Homo sapiens: one gene and its partner. The protein of the gene in region 1 interacts with the protein of each later gene in a pairwise test. Each region holds a gene or a part of one and is shown on either strand. Other genes may lie near its edges. The genes, in order: YTHDF1 and ITSN2.

Region 1 (4,491 bases):
GTTCTCTCAGGACTTCGAAGAACAGACCCACCTTTTCTTTATCATTTAGAGTTTGGCCCCATTGCTGTAAAGGTCATAAACAAGTTGAGTGTTGAGAAAGTGAAGTAGAGTTAGCATTTTGCAAGATTGCTGTCCAGCTATAAATTTAGAAACATACTGATTTCTTAGGATGGCAGTAGCTTTTATGGCAGCAGAGTCAGACCAAGTCCTGGGTTGATACATTTTTTGGTTTTAAAAAAACCTAGAAACGGCCACTTCTTAGCTTAAAACAGTGAAAGTGGTGAGCGTCCCACACTGTGAGCATTGCTTAGTTCCTCAGACTGACTGTCCTTGCCCTGGCGGCAGGTGCCCCTGACCTGACCCCACTTCGACCTCCAGGCCGGCTCAGCAGAGTGGCTCTTTGACTTTGGAAATTAAGAAAGAGCATAGAGAATCTTAGGCCATAAGCATTTCCTGGATGCTTGTTGAGCATTCCTCAAAAGAACGAGCTGTGCTTCGTCATTTTTTTTTTTTTTGAGAAATTTTATGAGGAATAGTATTTTTTAAAGAGCACATAGTAAACTTTGTAGCTGTTTATAAGGGCTGAAGGGAGATGGGGATCTGGGGAGTTTACCTGTGAGTGGCTTTAACATCAGCTATTTGAACTCAAGAGATTGGTATTTGCTTTTTAGGAACAGCAGTACCTCTTTTGTTAAGAGATTGATTGATTGAGAGTTTCGCTGTCTCCCCCAGGCTGGAGTGAAGTGGCACAATCTCAGCTCACTGCAACCTCTGCGTCCTAGGTTCAAGTAATTCTTGTGCCTCAGCCTTCAGAGTGGCTGGGATTACAGGCGCCGGTCACCATGCCCTGCCAAATTTTTTTTTTTTTTTTGTATTTTTAGTAGAGGTGGGGTTTTACCATGTTGACCAAGCTGGTCTCAAATTCCTGAGCTCAGGCAATCCACCCACCTTGGCCTCCCAAAGTGCTAGGATTACAGGCATGAGCCACCACACCCAGCCTGGGAAGAGATTTTTTTTAACGGAGAATGTTTAAGAGAATGTAAAATACAGAGTTCTTAATTTTTCCAGTTTTACATTTGAGGGTAGGGAGGAAATGTTAATTCTTAAGAGTAGGACCTGCCTATCCAGGTCCTTAATCCAAATACTCTGGAGCCTTCTCGGGACAGGGAACACCACATCTGCTTCTGAGAGCAGCCACAGTTGAGGAGGCTGGTGTTTATTCCAGTGCCCAGCAAAGTTTATTATTAACCGGAAGACACATTCAGTCCATTTTTAGCAAAAGAGGAGGTTTCAGGTTAAATGTTTGGGTGTCCTGCCCGCTGGTTTTCTTTATTAGTTTGCATCTTGATAGATGGCCAGATGAGGGTGGATGTGCCTGGGATGCATCTTTTTGTTTTGTTTTTATTTCGAGATAGGGTCTCTCTCTGTTGCCCAGGCTGGAGTGCAGGGCAGATAATAGCTCACTGCAGCCGAAAACTCATGGGCTCAAGCGATCCTCTCGCCTCAGCCTCCCGAATAGCTGGGATTACAGGGTGCGCCACCACACTCGGCCTGGGACACCTCTCTAGCAGAGTGGTGCAGCGTGTGCTCCTTAGATCGCACATTTTCATCTTTGTATGCTGCCTTGTAAGGAGACTGAAGGGGCTTCTAGACCCTGCTACTCAGGGAGGCCAGTGTGGGAAAAGATTCGGGTGTAAGTCTCAAGCTTGTGTGTCACATACACTCTGGAAAAGATGATTCTCTTACGGGAGTGGGCAGCAAACCTGGTCAGAGGAGCTTTGCCTTGAGCCAGTCTAGCCGTGGGGGAGTGGGGAGGGGCATGCTCTTCCCCTTGGCGTGGGAGTGAGCTGGGGAGTGGGAAGGGCCTGAACTGGACAGGCCCACACCGGTCCTCCTGCCCTTCATTAGCCACATGACACAGCACCTTGTTAGCCAGTTGGAAGGATTTTGGTGTCCTTTGTGCCACTGAGAAGTTTAAATGAGATAAAATACAGAAGAACAGCTTCTGTCTCCCTGGCCTCCTTGAGAGCCTGGTGCGTGCCAGCTCCTCCCTCTGAGTGCAGAGAATTTCACATTGCTAAGTGTCTTTCCATGTGGAATGATAGTGGCACATGAGGGAAAGACAGCTGTGGGAAGTGAGGCTTCCCAGCAGACAGGTGGCCCATGTGACCGTTGTGGTTGATGCTTTTCTCCTGGTAGAGGGGGTGGGGAGAATGCCATGCCCAGTGTGGCCAGTCCCCCACAGAGCAGGCCCCAGTGCAGCTCAGAGTTGTGTGCTGGTGTGGCTTGGGTACCATTCAGGGTCCCGCCTCCAGATTTGCAGGTGCTGCTAAGGGGCAGCCTCGGATCTCACTTTTGGGAGGGATTCATTGGTGTGGTTACTCTGCGTTCAACTTTTGTTTTTTCTTTTTACAGGAACGGCAGAGTCGAAACAAACAATGAGGGCGAACCAGTTTCTTACATGTTCTAACGTTTGACTTTGAAAACAGTTTAAAACACGTGTGCTTGGTCAGCTCCAGTGTGTCGTCCCGTGCGGGGGTTGAGTGTTGCATCTTTGCCTTTCTTGTCGTTGATTTTTGCCCAGATGGATCTGCATTTATTTGTACTTTTTCTATGTATTATAATCCTGTAGAAGTCACTAATAAAGGAGTATTTTTTTTGTCAGCTTATCAATCAGACTGATCTAATGTGAAATGTAAGTATCCTTAAAAACAAAGCATCTATTTTGGCAGAAATTGTGTTCTTAAATTCAGTCATTTGATATTCTGTGAGACTTCATATTTCTCATCCCTTTATTGCTTTTTAGCAAACATAAGAAACCATGAGTCATTTTGTCATTTAGAGTATTCTGATAAAATCTCTTGAAAATACTGAAATCAAAAGGTTAATGATTTTTTGTTCATTCTGATTTGTCATTTTATTATCTGTTATCGGTCTAAAGTGCTAATTTACCCATTTGATTTTTCTGCTAGACAGATAACTTTTAATTTTTCAAATTTGGCAGACACTTTTTTTTTTTTTTTGAAAATCTTTCCTTCCAGATCTGTTGCCCACTGAACAGCCACCCGTCCCTCACTGTCCTGGTGTCCGATTGGGCTGGATGGTGTTGGGGCATGATGTGTGGAGGAACTGGAAGGTGCTTTAGGTCTGGTTCAGGGTCGGGCATTCTTTGTTGTTTGCACATCTTTTTAAATTTTACACCTTTTCTTAAGAATTCTAATGCCGTCTTAAGTTTTTATACCAATAATGCTGAGCTTTAAGTGTAGGATCTGGTAGTACAGACAGTGTGATGGATGATGCTGCTGGTTGTAAATTTCATCGTGTGTGTCTAATTTTTTTTCCTGTTGAATGGGTAAAAACAAAACAAAACTTTTTTTAGAAGATGAATTTGCTGTCATGTTTTGTGGAATGAGGGACCGTTGAGCTCACTACCACCTGGAGTTTGAGTTGAAGCATGAAAATGGTGCCCATGCCTGACGCTCCAGCGCCTGGATCTGCACGTGCCCTTGTAGAGGATCCTTACCGTCCTAGAGAGCAGACGCTTTCTGAAAACTACTTGCTCCAAAAGACCCTCTGAGTTAACGTTTCAGCTGTATCATTAGACTTGTATTTAGAGCGTGTCACTTCCTCTGAACTGTTACTGCCTGAATGGAGTCCTGGACGACATTGGGTTTTTCCTCTAGGAGAATACAAGCCTTAATAAACAATACTATTTAGCAAACTTGGTGTCACCTCATTCTTCACCCTACTTGATGAGTTTATGTGTTGGAGCTTTTTAAGCTGCAGAGCCATTCGGGGAGTCACCGTAGAAAGCCCTGTGTTTCTCAAGGTGTGGGATTCTCGTTCCCTCGCTTTGGAAGAGGGAGCTGTTAATTTCCTTAAGACTATAAACTACATGGCACCGTCACCCACCCCTCATCACATGAATGTGCAGACGCAGCGGTGCGTGCAGCACCTGGGCACCGCTACCCCCTTTCTGGACTTGGCTCCTCACCGTCTCTCTCCATTCATCCTCCAATGCCTCTTATTATTTATGCAATAAGAGTTTAATACCTGTTTAGTTTGTTTTCCTTTTGAGGTAAAATTTATAAGCAGTGAAATGCACATTGTGTACATCTGCAGAAGTTGACAAGTATGTGATAAAGTTATGCAATATTAGCCTCAGCCCAGAAAATCCTGAGCTCAGGCAATCCGCCCGCCTTGGCCTCCCAAAGTACTAGGATTACAGGCACGAGCCACCACACCCAGTCTGTGAAGAGATTTTTTTAACAGAATTTTTAAGAGAATGCAATGCAAAATACAGAGTTCTTAATTTTTCCAGTTTTACATTTGAGGGGTAGGGAGGAAATGTTAATTCTTAAGAGTAGGATCTGCATATCCAGGTCCTTAATCCAAATACTCTGGAGCCTTCTCGGGACAGGGAACACCACATCTGCTTTTGAGAGCAGCCACGGTTGAGGAGGCTGGTGGTTATTCCAGTGCCCAGCAAAG
Region 2 (7,421 bases), on another chromosome or scaffold:
GACGGGTGAATAGGTGCAGCAAACCACCACGGTGCACGTATACCTATGTAACAAACCTGTACGTTCTGCACATATATCCTGTTTTTTTTGTAAGAAATAAAAAAAAATCGGCACACAAGAAAGTCTGCCTTTCTTCAAAAACAGTTTTTTCACAAATTTTTTCCATAAATAAAAAAGGTACTAAAAAAACTTGAATCCAAAAAAAGAAAAAGAAAATGCACCGTTAGATGGTAATAAATATATCACATTTTTGGTAATGTAACTCGTTTATTCTGAATCATTTCTGGAACTTGTTAATATAAATGTTTTACAAGTAAATACAATATGTAAAAATGCTACTTAATGGACTAATATGTACTTTCACTCATTCACTAAACACATATTTTTTACTGAATGCCCATATAACTTTTTTTTTCTTTTTTTTGTTTGAGACGGAGTCTCACTCTGTCGCCTAGGCTGGAGTGCAGTGGTGCGATCTCGGTTCACTGCAACCTCCGCCTCCCGGGTTCAACGATTCTCCTGCCTCAGCCTCCTGAGTACCTGGGACTACAGGCGCACGCCACCATGCCAGGCTAATTTTTTGTATTTTTTAGTAGAGACAGGATTTCACCTTATTGGTCAGTCTCAAACTCCTGACCTGGTGATCCGCCCTCCTCGGCCTCCCAAAGTGCTGGGATTACAGGCATGAGCCAGGGCACCCGGCACATAGATAACTCTTTTTTAAATGTATGAACCAAGATGACTCTACCAGATAAGGCACAGGTGCTGCAGTTAAAAGGATCTTGGTTTGAAACCTGGCTATTGTACTTACTAGCTCAGAGACCTAAAGTAGTCAAACTTCAGGTTAACATTTCACTTACCTTTTTGATGGGAAGATAATAATTACTCCTAGGGCCTTAGTGAGCTTTAAATGATTATGTAAAACACTTAGCATAGAGTCTAACATGCAGTTACGTGCTCGATAAATGACAACCATGGTAAACATATTTTATACTGAAGAAAGTATAGTTGAAGGAGACAGCCAATATGTGACCCTTTTGTCTTACTAAAGATGGAAATTTGTGAAACTCTACATTAAAACTAAAAATCCTAAGGTTACATGATTTTCTACTTTTTAAAAAAGATATACTAACTACATAAGGTTAAAGGATTTTTTAAAATAAGAAAGAAAAAAAGAAAAGCTTCTTGAAAGCTGCTGAGTTTGGGTGATGGGTACATGCTATTTTTGTGAAAATACAAATTTTTTAACACTATTAATCCAATCCCCAAAACATGCCTAACACACCTCCTCATATTCAGGAGAGATCAAGATTTTAGCCTTGAGATGTACCGAACAATGGTAACTCCCTGCTTAGTAATTCTGTACAGGTCAAGTTTTCTTGGACGAGTTTACCTTTCATTACAAAGGTGGGCACAGGGAATAGTTATCAATGCATGGAAGGGTGAAAAAATGCAAGCTTTTCAACTGCTTATTAATATTACATCAAAATAGCAGCAATGCACATTTTTTCCACGTTTTCAAAAACATAAAATACATCCACTTTATTTACTTTTGAAATTACAAGAGAGTCACAGGCACAGCCAAAAAAAGCTAAAGGAAAACACATCAGAGTTGTCAGTATCTTTAAATTTGGAAGGACGTCATTATTAATTCGCGTAAATGTTTTATGCGATGTTTCTAGGTAGCTTTTAGGTTTTATCACTGATTAACAATATAGCAAACCAGCACAGGGAGAGAGGCAATTTTTCGAAACGCTTAAGAAGCTTTAAACTACAAGAGCTATGCTACCTAAACTGAGCTCACTAACAACGTAAAATTTCAAGTCACACCTTGCCTATTTCTGAGTAAGCAAGCAAACACTAGTGAGACAAACTAGAAGCATGGAGCAAAGCAAGTCATTTCTATGCTAACCTTAATTCCTATCGTAAAGGGGTTGGCTCCATCAAAAAATATTCCTATTTCAGTATTAACACAAGTTTCAAATAAAGCACACTTGCCATTGGTAATTCTAGAGCGACAAGGCGCATAATTAATAAATCCAAACGGAGCATCTTTCTATAGAATACAAAGCCATCTGCAGTTTCAGCCTCGGTTTACCCACTCACTATGCATATGCAGACGTCTTTAAAAATAAATAAATAAATACACAAATAAACTTTATCTGGCCTGAGAGATTACATCTCTCGGTGCTTCCTGTATATTCTGGAAGTCAATAACGCTGAAGGTAAATTTAACATTTCCAACTCCGGAGGAACGCGAGCGGTAGACGCCAAGCATCCGCCCACTGTCCTCTCGTGACTCGGGCTACTTTGACGCACCGGGATGCGGCTCACCTGACATTCGGCACCAACCCTTGCCAGGAAGGAAAACCAACTCCGCGAAAATAAAATGGGTCCCCGAGGAGGCGTGCGGGTGCCCCCAGAGCTCTCTTCTGCTCACACCCCGAAAGCGAGGGGGCCACGCCACCCCCGACCCTCGCCGGCGTCCGCCACCTGCCAGACGAGGCCGCGGCCAGGGACCCGGGCTCGGCCGCAAGGAAGGGGCAGCCCAGCCCAGGCCCCCTCGGCGTCTGTCCCGGCCCGGCAGCAGAGGAAGGAACCCGGGGCCGGAGGTTTCCGCCCCGCACGGCCGAGCCCGCCAGGGGCCTAGCTCGGGGGCCGCCCGTACTCCCGAGGACCCGTCCCCATCGTGCGGAGCGCACAGCCGCCTCAGCCCGACCCGCAGAGCCTCCGGGCAGCGGGCGCGGCGCCCGCACCTGCCCCGCGCCTTGCTGCAGCCCCGCTAGCGGCTTCACCCACCTGGCGCCCTCGCCGCGCCTCCCGCTCGTCACAGCGCGACTCCGCGTCCCTCAGCACCGGCAGCCTGGGCGCGGGCAGGCGCGGGGAGACCCTGCTCTGCCGCCGTCGCCGCCACTGCAGCTGGCTTGGTCGTCAGGCCGCCGCCCGCGAACCTGTTGCGTAGCCTGTCACAGCCGCTCAGGGCTCCGCCGGCGCCGCCTCAGCCCCACAACAACATGGCGGCCGCGGCCTCCGCAGGAAGCCGGGGGGCGGGGAGGTAGGCGCCGGGCCGGGCAGCTGACGGCCCGCCCGCTGCCGGGCACCGACTCCCCACCCTCCGGAGCCCGAAACTGCCCGGGCGTGGCTCCTCGCCCCAGGAGTTCCGGGGCATTGAACCCTGAAGGTCTGCTCCGAGTCGGTCGGGTCCGAAGCGCTCCTCTCTGCCCTCGGGGAGGCCCCGAAGCCCCAGACCTGGCAGCCCTTCCTGGAGTTGCACAGACCCACCTGGCTCCTCCTCCCCGAGGTAACATGCTGAGCTTGGGTGGTGCTTTTCCTGCCACGGCAGACGCCGGGGTTTTGGAAAGTCCCAAGCAGTGCCTGCCACATCCCTGTTGCACCCACCACGGGGTTCTCCCTGGAACCTTCTCACTCGCCGAAGTTTTCTCCACTGATCTGGGGGAACGAATTCTCTGGGAATTGGGGGGTGGAAGGTGGGAAGGAGGTTGATCCCACCCTTGCCCATGGGTCTGTTACAGGCCTCTTGAACCCTTCTCAGGGACCTGGAGGACTTAACCATACCCTCGGTCATCCATTCACCATTCCTCGCCCTCCTCCATAACACACGCGGAGCGCCCACGAGGAGCACCCTCTACGCTAGTCACACTCCGCCGAGCAGTAGGAAGACTCTGTCCCCATAGAGCATAGCACGACGAAGCTAAACTTTCCTCCCCACCCCTCGCCAAGGGACAGGCGAAGCTCCTACTCAGAATTTGTCTCTTTTCTCCCCTCCCGGTTCCTGGTCTCCTCACAAAAGACCAGACTTCAACTCAAGCCGCCACCGTATCCCAAAACCCCAAAGGTTTGCCCTTGACAAGAAGCTTCTTCAAGGGGAAAGGCTTTCTTTTGATTGGGGTGAGGGAGGAGTTAGTGTTTCCTAATGAACGTAACCAAATGTCGGCCTGGCACAGTGGCTCACGCTTGTAACCCCGGCACTTTGGGAGGCCGAGGCAGGTGGATCATCTGAGGTCAGGAGTTGGAGACCAGCCTGGCCAACATGGTGAAACCCCGCCTCTTCTAACAATACAAAAATTAGCTGGGCGTGGTGGCGGGCGCCTGTAGTCCCAGCTACTCGGAAGGCTGAGGCAGGAGAATCGCTTGAACCTGGGAGGCGGAGGTTGCAGTGAGCAGAGATTGCACCACTGTACTCCAGCCTGGGCGACAAGAGCGAAACTCTGTCTCAAAAAAAAAAAAGTAACCAAATGTAAGACTCAAGATTTTTGGATATAAGACCCAAGATTTCTTTTTTTTTTTTTTTTTTTTTTTTTTTTTTTCCTGAGACAGACTCTCACTCCGTTGCCCAGGCTGGAGTGCAGTGGCGCAACTGTGAGATCTGTGCTCACTGCAACCTCCGCCTCCCAGGTTCAAGCAATTCTCCTGCCTCAGCCTTCCAAGTACCTGGGATTACAGGCACTTGCCACCACGCCCGGCTAATTTTTGTATTTTTAGTAGACACTGGTTTCACCATGTTGGCCAGGCTGGTCTCAAACTCCTGACCTCAGGTGATCCACCCGCCTCATCCTCCCAAAGTGCTGGGATTGGCGTGAGCCACCACGCCCGGCCAAGACCCAAGATTTATTTTGGCTTTTAGAAGCAGGGTGAGGGCTGGTCTGGGGTCCAAAACTCATATCCCTTGATTTGATCTGTGTAGATCAAATAACCCCTGGCATCCTTTCATTCCTTACCTGTTGAGGCAGGTGAAGGTGAGATGGCTCCAAACCCAGGCCTATCTGAACTGGCCAGCCAGCTTAGGAGGAATTTACCAAACATCGATGATGATAAACAGGCTTTTCCCGCTCTCACACTCAGTGTTTTTCCTAACTCTTCGATTAGAACCTGACCAAGACCTGACAGACAGGTCCTGAGCTTCAGTGACACAGAGAAGCCTGACTCTTTTATCAGTCTAGGAGGCCCCTCACTTGCTGGGGACCAGCCAATCTGTCCTTATCTGCAAACAAACCACCCAGGCCAAGGATAGCAATCTTGAGCACGTGGCCTCATTCCCATTGCACCCTTCACCAGTTAACTGATATGCTCTTTTGGAGCCCATATTTGAGAGTCAAAGCCCCAGAATCCTTCACAACATAGTGCTCCAGAGAGTTGGTCTGAGAGGTAAAACCTATTTTTTATTCCTGTTAGGCACATAGCTAGTCTTCATTTTTCTCCCATCCTTTGACCAATGTCATTTGTGTTTTCGGGTTCTAGACCTGGTGCAATTTACCCTGAGTCTCCTTTCCTTCTAAAGGAGGTGCCAAATCCTTGGCAGGACAAAAATGGAATTTGTAGAAAGAGATGCTTATAAAGGAATAAAAAAAAATTTAAAGCCCCCCTAAAATAAACCAAAAAACTAACAACCTCTGCTGGAAATCAGGGTCCTGAATGCATGCCTACAGTATCCCAAGTACTAAAACAACTGTATCCCAGAGTTCCCTTCAGAACTTTGAGGCCAGTTTGTCCATCCTGTCCTACTCTATCACAGCCCAAAATGCAAGCACCTCCAGTTATCTATCTTCTCTCTCACACATACCTCCCACCCTGTGTGATTCAGGGATAAATTTGGGCAATATTAAGCATTTGGTGGTTGGATATAAGGAATGAGAAGGAGTAAAGGGTTCTTGGGTTTTTGGGTAATGGTAGTTCTATTCAACAAGATAAAGAATGGAATACAGGAGGGAAGCACAGACCTTGGAAGTGGCTGAAGAAACATTTTCCTTGCTCCTCGACTGCATCCAGATCCTAGTTTTCCACTCACATGCAAAAGCCCCTTCTCCTATGAGGCTTATAACACTAGCTACACCCATCCTCTATCCTCATCCTTATCATTTACCATCTTCCAGGGCACTCAATATATTCCTCAAGAATTTCTGCACATGGAGCAGCCAGTACTCTCCGCCCAGGACCTTCATCATCCTTAGTGTCTTTCAGTGTTCATGATTCATTTAGATGATGCAGCCGCCATCCCAGTTCCTTGACTTCCTCTTCTCATAGGGCAGCCTTGGAAGTGTGTCTATACATTTCCTCCTTAGTATTCTCCAAATCCCAGCATCTTTTCTTTACTTCTGGCACCAGCTGGAAATCAAATACCTGGAGGAGCTAAGTCCTACCATGTTACATTTCTCTTCCTCTAGTTCTGCCACAGTCTAGGCAAGATTCTTAGACTTGTTCCTGGTGACCTAGCTTTTACCCTGGGAGCGTTTAGTCTCTATCTGTTTTCTTTTCCATGTATTATTGATCCTTCTCCTCAACCATATGTATCTTATGTTCTATCAATCTCCCCTTAAGTTAGTTTTCAAAGATTCCATCCTGTACCCCATTTCTACCATGTTTACCCCCAAAACAAACCTGCAGTGTAAGAAGAGTATAGAATAGGTAGAAGCAACAGTTCTAGAGTCCAGGCATCCCATAAGATAAATACCATTATCATATAGAGTAGAAAGACTGAGAACCTGGAGCTCATATTTCATGTTATAGTTTTACCTTCAAAACAATGCTGTAACTTTGGGGGTTTTTTATTTGTTTTTGTTTTGTTTTTTTTAGGATGGAGTTTCACTCTTGTTGCCTAGGCTGGAGTGCAATGGCGCGATCTCAGCTCTCTGCAACCTCCGCCTCCCAGGTTCAAGCGATTCTCCTGCCTCATCCTCCTGAGTAGCTGGGATTACAGGCTCCCACCACCAAGCCCAGCTAATTTTTTGTATTTTTAGTAGAGACAAGGTCTCACTATATTGGCCAGGCTGGTCTTGAACTCCTGACCTCAGGTGATCCACCCACCTCAGCCTCCCAAAGTGCTAGGATTACAGGCATGAGCCAAGTTTTAAATAAATAATTTATAAAGAAATTAATAGGTTACAGGCAACAAAAATAGTCTTGATTTATCCAGATATTTATTATTTTGGGCACTCTTCATTCTTTCCTGAGGATCCGAGTTTCCTATGATAATATTTCCCACCTGCCAAACAAACTAACCCTGAAAATGGATGGCACTGGAGGAGCAGAGGAAGGGAGAGGAAAGGGATTGAGCAGATGGCATCATTTCCCATTTTTCAACCCCCAACCCCAAGTTCCCATCCCTGCAGATGCTCTGCCCTGAGACTTGAAGCCTGGGGCACAGGCCTGGGTGGAGCCAATGCAGGCACAGATCTTGACATTCGTAGCAAATATTCAGATGGGAATTTTGAAGGCAGAAGTGGAGAAGAGTTCCACGTGAACAGCAGTAGGTATGAGTTATATATTTTTTAAATTAATAATTTTTAAAAGACCCTACCATGTTCTGGCCACTAGAAACAAGGACTTCGCAAGGAATGAGCACTGGTGAGGAGCAGTGGAGACTCAATTCACAAGAATGGTCAATGGGACAAATTTGGTCCTTG

What was found.
Region 2: the proteins of YTHDF1 (region 1) and ITSN2 interact in a two-hybrid assay, tested with the Homo sapiens proteins (one study listed by BioGRID and IntAct).

What each region holds. Positions count from the first base shown.
Region 1 is NC_000020.11:63,194,659-63,199,149, reverse strand, and holds the end of YTHDF1 (YTH domain-containing family protein 1), read left to right. Parts: intron 1-2,415; coding exon 2,416-2,442; 3' UTR 2,443-3,721; downstream 3,722-4,491.
Region 2 is NC_000002.12:24,357,505-24,364,925, forward strand, and holds the start of ITSN2 (intersectin-2), read right to left. Parts: upstream 3,033-7,421; 5' UTR 2,800-3,032; exon of another isoform or gene 2,335-2,799; intron 1-2,334.